2 linked regions of the Homo sapiens genome follow. The protein of the gene in region 2 interacts with the protein of the main gene of each other region in a pairwise test. Each region holds a gene or a part of one and is shown on either strand. Other genes may lie near its edges. The genes, in order: ZNF250 and ZCCHC13.

Region 1 (3,923 bases), on a different chromosome or scaffold from region 2:
AGATAAAGGGTTTTCTAGGCCAGGCATGGTGCCTCACGCCTGTAATCCCAACACTTTCGGAAGCAAAGGTGGGAGGATCACTTGAGGCCAGGAGTTCGAGACCAGCCTGGCCAACACGGTGAAACTCCGTCTCTACTAAAAATACAAAAATTAGCCAGGTGTGGTGGCGCATATCTATAATCCTAGTTACTTGGGAGACTGAGGCACAAGAAAAGCTTGAACCTGGGGTGGGGGCGGAGACTGCAGTGAGCCAAGATCATGCCACTGCACTGCAGCTTGGGCAACAGAGCAAGACTATCTCCACACACACATACAAAAAGTTTTTTAAATTTATGTAATTTCTCACTAATATATAAGCTTTTTCCTTGTTTCATACAAAACAGGACTCCACACACTTAGGATGGAAATCCACACACTTAGGATTTCCAACCATTTTACATGATGCTTGATGAAAATATCTTTTTATATCACTTTATCCATACAATACTTTAGTCTTTTAAGAGAATACTGAAAATAGTCCGACTTTCAAATTTTAAGTGCAATAATTAGTATGGTTAATTGATATTTAGGAAGGGCATGTAATGTTCTTAGAAAAAGAACTTTATTTGGAATGTAAGATTTTATTGGGATAATGGTTCTTATGCCTTAAATTCCCTTAGTTCAAATAAACTAATGTTAAAGAATTATGGCTGTTTTTTACCAAAATTCTCTACAATTGTATGATTACTCTCCAACATAACTTCAAGATGTTGAGGAAAATAAAACAGGTAGTCTCTGAAGTTTTTCCACAGGAACAGCACGCTAAGTGCTTCTTTCTGGAGTTATTTTGTGACACTGAATCGCCAAAGAAAAGCTTCCTATAGAGTTAACAGAGACTTCTCTTGGGCTGAAGGCTGCTTGTGGTTCCACATGCAGTTTCTGTGAGAATGGATTCTTGTGTCAGCCATGGGTCACAACTTTCTGTGCACTTTCTGGTGCTGGATTAGGTGGCCATGCTGGTTGAAGGCACGCCCACACTCCCCGCACTCATAGGGCTTCTCGCCTGTGTGGATCCGCTGGTGCTGGATGAGCACTGAGTACTGGCTGAAGGCCTTCCCGCAGCTATTGCACTCATATGGCTTCTCGCCCGTGTGGGTCCTCAGGTGCACAATCAGAGTTGCTTTCAGGCTGAAGGCTTTGCCACATTCTGTGCACTGGAAGGGCTTTTCACCTGTGTGGATTCTCTCATGCTGGATCAGAGACCGGCGTGCACTGAAGGCGTGCCCACATTCACCACACACATAGGGCTTCTCCCCAGTGTGGACTCTCTGGTGCTGGATCAGGTGTGAGTGCTGAACGAAGGCCTTCCCACATTCGTAGCATGCATAGGGCTTTTCCTCGGTGTGGATCCGCTCGTGATTCATCAGTGTGGAGCGGTGGCTGAAGGTCTTCCCACACTCACTGCACTCATAGGGCTTCTCCCCGGTGTGCACGTTGTGGTGCTGAATGAGGACTGAGCGGTCGCTGAAGGCCTTCCCACACTCGCTGCACGTGTAGGGCTTCTCCCCGGTGTGGATCCTCTGGTGCTGCAGCAGTGTCCTCTTCACACTGAAGGTTTTCCCACACTCATTGCACCTGTGAGGCTTCTCCCCAGTGTGTACCCTCTGGTGGCTCCGCAGAACAGTGCTATGGTTGAAGGCTTTCCCACACAACGGACACACATATGGCCTTTCTCCCGTGTGGATCCGCTGGTGCTGAATGAGATGTGAGAGTTGAGTGAAGGCTTTCCGACACTCAAGACATTCGTGAGGCTTCTCTCCTGTATGTATCTTGTGATGCTGAGCAAGATCTGAGCTCACTCTAAAGGCTTTTCCACACTCATTACACTCATAGGGCTTCTCACCTGTGTGAATTCTCCTGTGTTTACTAAGGACTGAGCTCTGGCTGAAGGCCTTCCCACATACACTGCACACATAGGGCTTCTCTCCAGTGTGGATACGCTGATGCTGAAGGAGGTGGGAACTCCGGCCAAAGCACTTCCCACACTCAACACACATGTAGGGCCTCTCTCCACTAGGCACTGCCTGGTGCGGAGTGAGTGGCATGCTTTGGCTTAAGACCTGAACTTCACGGTGGTCAACAGAGTTTGGACTCAGACAGAAGCTTTGCTTTGTTTCATTATTTTCTTGATCAATCCTCCCCAAGGGTGTTTTCCCCAGAATCACTGTTTGCTCTGAAATTAATGGCTTCGGACTCAAGTCTGTATTTTGACTCTCTCCCTTGGTTTCACATTCTGAAAGAACAAATCCAAAATGAAAATGTTAACACTACTCAAAACTGAAGAGCTAGTGCAACCCTGAAACTGGCCTTGCTGATGAAGGTGCAAAATCCCTCAATGCACACGTTGGTGTGAGCTACAGAAGAACAGAACCACCATAACTGTGTCAAACAACTAGATATCAGAAGATAATGTTTCCAGACAGGAAGGTGCCAAGGCAAGCTTTAAGAGAAAGGTGTAAACTCCAGTTTGAGGTCACACCCCTGTGTGGAGTCCACAGAACAGCAGGGAAACAGCCCAGTGGTGCCTGAGTCCTGCCCTCCCAGGGGTCCTCATGTGGACAGAGCTGAAATACAGGCCCACATAATGTGGGTGCCTTGTGGGGCAGACAGCAGCACTTGGGCAGGCAGGGAGAGGTGTGAGCTATTGTGAGCAAGTCGGGGTGTGCCATCTGGAGGCCAACAGACTTGTACATGAGGTAGGGGTGGTGGTGCTGCCACCTCTTTGTGGAAAATAATTTCTTTTTTTTTTTTTTTGAGAAGGAGCCTTGCTCTGTTATCCAGGCTGGAGTGCAGTGGCACAATCTCGGTTCACTGCAACCCCCACCTCCTGGGGTCAAGCGATTCTCGTGTCTCAGCCTCCTGAGTAACTGGGATTACAGACGCACACCATCATGCCTGGCTAATTTTTGTATTTTTAGTAGAGATGGGGTTTTATCGTGTCGGCCAGACTGGTCTTGAACTCTTGACTTCAAGTGATTCACCCACCTCGGCCTCCCAAAGTGCTGGGATTACAGGCGTGAACCATCGGACCTGGCCATGTGGAAGATAATTTCATGTGGAGAATGCAGTGGCAGGAGGAGGGGAGGGAAGGACAAGACTGAAGGTGCAGAGGGGCATGATGGGAATCTGCTGCCAAGTTTAGGCCACAGATGAGGCCTTCAGGAGCAGAAGCATAGATGGCGGGAAAGGCAGGGGTGGAGACTCTTCTGGGAGCAGGTCGAGCGCTCTGCAGGCTGATTGTGTGTGAGTGGGTGGGAGGTAAGAGGTGCTGAGGACAACAGTGATTTTTTTTTTAGATGGAGTCTCTGTCACCCAAGCTGGAGTACAGTGGCTACTATCATAGCCCACTGCAGCCTCAAGCTGCTTGGGGCTCATATGATCCTCCCGCCTTTGCCTCCCAAAGTGCTGGGAGTACAGGCATGAGCCATTGTGCCTGGCTCTAAACATTATTATATTTTATTTTACTTAGTTATGCGTGTTTCTGAGCTTTCTATAGTTTCATGGAGCACAGTCTTCTGGAACTCGTTTTCCCGTCAGCATTATGTTTTTGAGATCCATCATGTTGTTGTACAGCAGTTAATCATTTTCACTGCAGTATATTCCATTAAGTTAAAATACCATAGTTTATTTATGTCTATTCTGTTTATGAACATAATTCTTTTTTTAGAGACGGAGTCTTACCCTGTCGCCCAGGCTGGAGTGCAATGGGACGAGCTCGGCTCACTGCAACCTCTGCCTCCCGGGTTGAAGTGATTCTCCTGCCTCAGCCTCCCCAGTGGCTGGGATTACAGGCACATGCCACCATGGCTGGCTAATTTTTTTGTATCTTCAGTAGAGACAGGGTTTCACCATGTTGGCCAGGATGGCCTCAAACTCCTGACTTC
Region 2 (3,865 bases):
CCTCTAGAGTAGCTGGGACTACAGGCATGCGCCACCACACCCGGCTAATTTTGTATTTTTTGTAGAGAAAAGCTCACTGTGTTGCCCAGGCTGCTCTCAAACTCCTGGGCTCAAGTGATCCTTCTGGTCTGGCCTCCCAAAGTGCTGGGATTACAGGTGTAAGCCACTGCGCCCGGCCTGTTAAGATTTTTTGTTTCTGTTTTTTTCTGATTGCTCTCTCTCTCAAAGCAGCTCATATACATTATACATTTTGTTTCTGGTTTATTTTCATTAAACTACACACTCTATGCAGGGCCAGACAGAGATGTCTCGTTCAATGTTGTTTAAAACCTAATGAGGCCAGATAATTCAAAGCCATCAATATGATAAAATTTAAGTTACTTTGGCAAGGTCATGGATTTTCAGAATCAGCTTTATTTGCCCTATGGATCTCTGAGGAAATATAACCTCCTCAGGGTGCCCTTGTGTATCTAAAACAGAACCACATTCTTTCCCTCTTTCCCCCACATACACATTCTCTTTTTATCCTTTTACCTCCTGTTCTTTCTCTCTATGGCAATTTACCTTCATCTGACACACTATTTTTCTTGTTAATAGATTCTAGGCCTGTGTTTCTAAATTTGTTCTAATTTGTTCACCATTTAGATCCAGCTCTTCCAATAGTGCCTCTTAATTAAATGTGTTAAATCAAAATACAACAAAAGAACCCCTTAAGTGATTGGTGCTCAGAATGACTATTTAATAACTAGATTTGCCCGTGGGGCAGAAGCAACACGTTAATTGTGGGGCATCTACCAATGATTAACTTTTTTGAGGTTTTTTTTTCTAGCTCTTTCCTCCTTTAACATGGTAATTAAAGCTCACTTGCCTGAGAGTAGCCTCAATCTATCGACCTTTCGGTGAGTGAAGTTTTCGGAGAAAATAATACAATTATCAATCAGCAAAAGGGTGGGGGGTGGGGGGGAAGATTTAAGTGGTAACCTCACTGGGACATTCCTTGGCTAGATGTCGGGATTTGCCGCAGCGGTAGCAGTTGACCTGGCCTCGCCTTGCTGCAATTGATGGCCACGTGGCCAATCTCGCCGCATCGGTAACACTTGACCTGGGCGCAGTCTTTCTGAATGTGCCCAAGTTTGCCGCAAGAGTAGCATTTCTGCTCTTTCTGACGATCACAGTCACGAGCCAGATGTCCTAGTCTGCCGCAGGTATAACAGTGTTGGCGTCTCTCTCGTTTAGGATCCTTACAGTCTTTGGCGATGTGGCCGCTTCTCCCACAGTTGTAGCAGATGTTTCCGAGAAGGACACAGTTCTTAGCATTACGACCGGACTCACCACAGCAGTAACAGGTGTAAGATAGGGTGGTGGAACCACATTGAGAACCTCTGCCATGGCCTCCACCTCTTCGCCCTCCAGCTCCTCCTCTAGGGCATCCCCGAGCCCAATGGCCAGAGTGTCCACACGCGAAGAAATCCTTACTGCTCATGGCTGCGATGCGATCTTCCAATGAGCAGGCCCACCTCGGCCCCGGAGGCCCCGGCGCAACCCCGCTTTGGGCGGCTTAGAAAGAATTAGCTGTTTTCCGCTAGGTGTCTCAGTGATGTCATACAAGGTTTGCACACGGCCCCATTCACGTGTCACGGACATTCCTGACGCCCTTCCCGCCCGACTTTCCTCCTACTCAAGAAGCCAAAAGCACAATAATCTGTTAACTGAGTAGTGTTGTTTTCCGTTTTTGTTTGTTTCAACACTTGAATCATTGAGTTTGAATCCTTTCCTATTTAGAAAATTAGACTTGTAGAAGTTTTCATAATTTAAGACTTAGTCGGCCGGGTGCGGTGGCTCATGCCTGTAATCCCAGCTCTTCGGGAAGGCCAAGGCGGGAGGATCACGAGGTCAAGAGATTGAGACCATCCTGGCCAACATGTTGAAACCCCGTCTCTACTAAAAATACAAAAATTAGCCGGGCATGGTGGCGGGCTCCTGTAATCCCAGCTGAGGCAGTTGAACCAGGGAGGCAGAGGTTGCAGTGAGCCAAGATCGCGCCATTGCATTCCAACCTGGGCGACAGAGGGAAACTCTGTCTCAAAAAAAAAAAAAAAAAAAAAAAATTTGGTGTTCCAGTGGAGGTGAGGGGGACAAATTGTGTCGACTTCTATCCCATGATCTTGCTCTGTCCCCTGGGTTTCTTAATTCACTAAATAATTGGAACTCATAGTTTGAAGCATACTATTTAGAGGCATATGTGTAAACATATCTTTATATTACGAGTTATTTATTTATTTATTTTAGACAGGAGGAGTCTTGCTATGTTGCCCAGACAGGTCTCAAACTCTTGGGCTTGAGCAATCAGCCTCCTGAGTAGCTGGAACCACAATCATATGCTGGCTACTATGACTTTTTGATGTTTCAATTTTAGACATTATCTGTGTCTTTCCATTTTGGAGGATGAACATTTAGTCTTCTTTTACCACCCACCCTATGCACTTGCACAGTCCAAACTCCTCATTCCAACTATGCCTCCCTTCACTTAATATTGGTTGGGACAATATTCAATGTTTTTATAATTATAAGTATGTAAATGATACTCATGCCTGAGCCATTTGGAGAGTACTCTGATCACTTCATTACCTGCATGGTTTTTATGTTCTCTGGAGTTAGTTATTGTCATTCTTTATTTCTTTAGTTTCTCATATATTTACCTAAATACTATTTAATAGCTATATCTGTGTGTTTATCTTTATACCAGTACCACATAATCTTGATTACTGTAGCTTTGCATTATACTTTGAAATTGGGAGGAGTAAGGCCTCCAACTTTGCTCTTTTGATGTGACTATTCTGAGTTCCTTGCATTTTCATATGAATTTTAGGATCAGCTTGTCAATTTCTGCAAAAAAAGGCAAACGGGTGTTTGATATGGATTATGGAATCTGTAGATCATTTTGGAGACCATTGTTATCTTAAAAATATTGAGTCTGGCCGGGCGCGGTGGCTCACGCCTGTAATCCCAGCACTTTGGGAGGCCGAGGTGGGCAGATCATGAGGTCAGGAGTTCAAGACCAGCCTGACCAACATGGTGAAACCCTGCCACTATTAAAAATACAAAAATTGGCCAGGCATGGTGGCGCATGCCTGTAATCCCAGCTACTCAAGAGACTGAGGCAGGAGAATGGCTTGAACTTGGGAGGTGGAGGTTGCAGTGAGCCAAGATCGCGCCACTGCACTCCAGCCTGGGTGACAGAGAAAGACTCTGTCTCAAAAAAAAAAAAAAAAAAAAAATTGAATAATTAAATACATGAGCACAAGTTATTGTTTCACTTATTTAGGCTTTTATTTTCATTCTCTGATATTTTGTAGTTTTCAGTATACAAGTCTTGCACATCTTTTGTTAAATTTTTAAAGTATTTCATCATTTTTGATGTTATCTTAAATAGAATTATTTTCTTATCATTTTTCAATTGTTTATTGTTATTGTATAGAAATACAATTATTTCTGTATGTTGATCTTGTATCTTGCAACCTTGCTGAACTGATTTAATAGTTCCAGTAGTTTTTTAGTGGATTCCTTAGGATTTTCTATAGACAAGATTATGTCATCTATAAGTAAGGATAGTTTATATTCTTCCTTTCTAATCTGGATGCCTTTTATTTCATGCTCTTGCCTAATTGCCCCAGCTAGAACTTCCAGCACAATGCTGAATAGAAATAGTGAAAGCAGACATTCCTGTCTCGTTCTTTATCTCAGGAGGAAAGCTCTCAGTCTTTGACCATTAAGTATGATGTTAACCATGGTTTTTTAATTAAAAAAAAAACTACATACTTTTTTATTGGGTTAAAGAAGCTCTCTTCTATCCCTAATGTGTTGA

What was found.
Region 1: the proteins of ZCCHC13 (region 2) and ZNF250 interact in binary tests that used the Homo sapiens proteins (3 or more experiments, as listed by UniProt).

What each region holds. Positions count from the first base shown.
Region 1 is NC_000008.11:144,880,565-144,884,487, forward strand, and holds part of ZNF250 (zinc finger protein 250), read right to left. Parts: intron 2,273-3,923; coding exon 951-2,272; 3' UTR 1-950. UniProt on the Homo sapiens protein: May be involved in transcriptional regulation.
Region 2 is NC_000023.11:74,301,885-74,305,749, reverse strand, and holds ZCCHC13 (zinc finger CCHC domain-containing protein 13), read right to left. Parts: upstream 1,571-3,865; 5' UTR 1,484-1,570; coding exon 983-1,483; 3' UTR 716-982; downstream 1-715.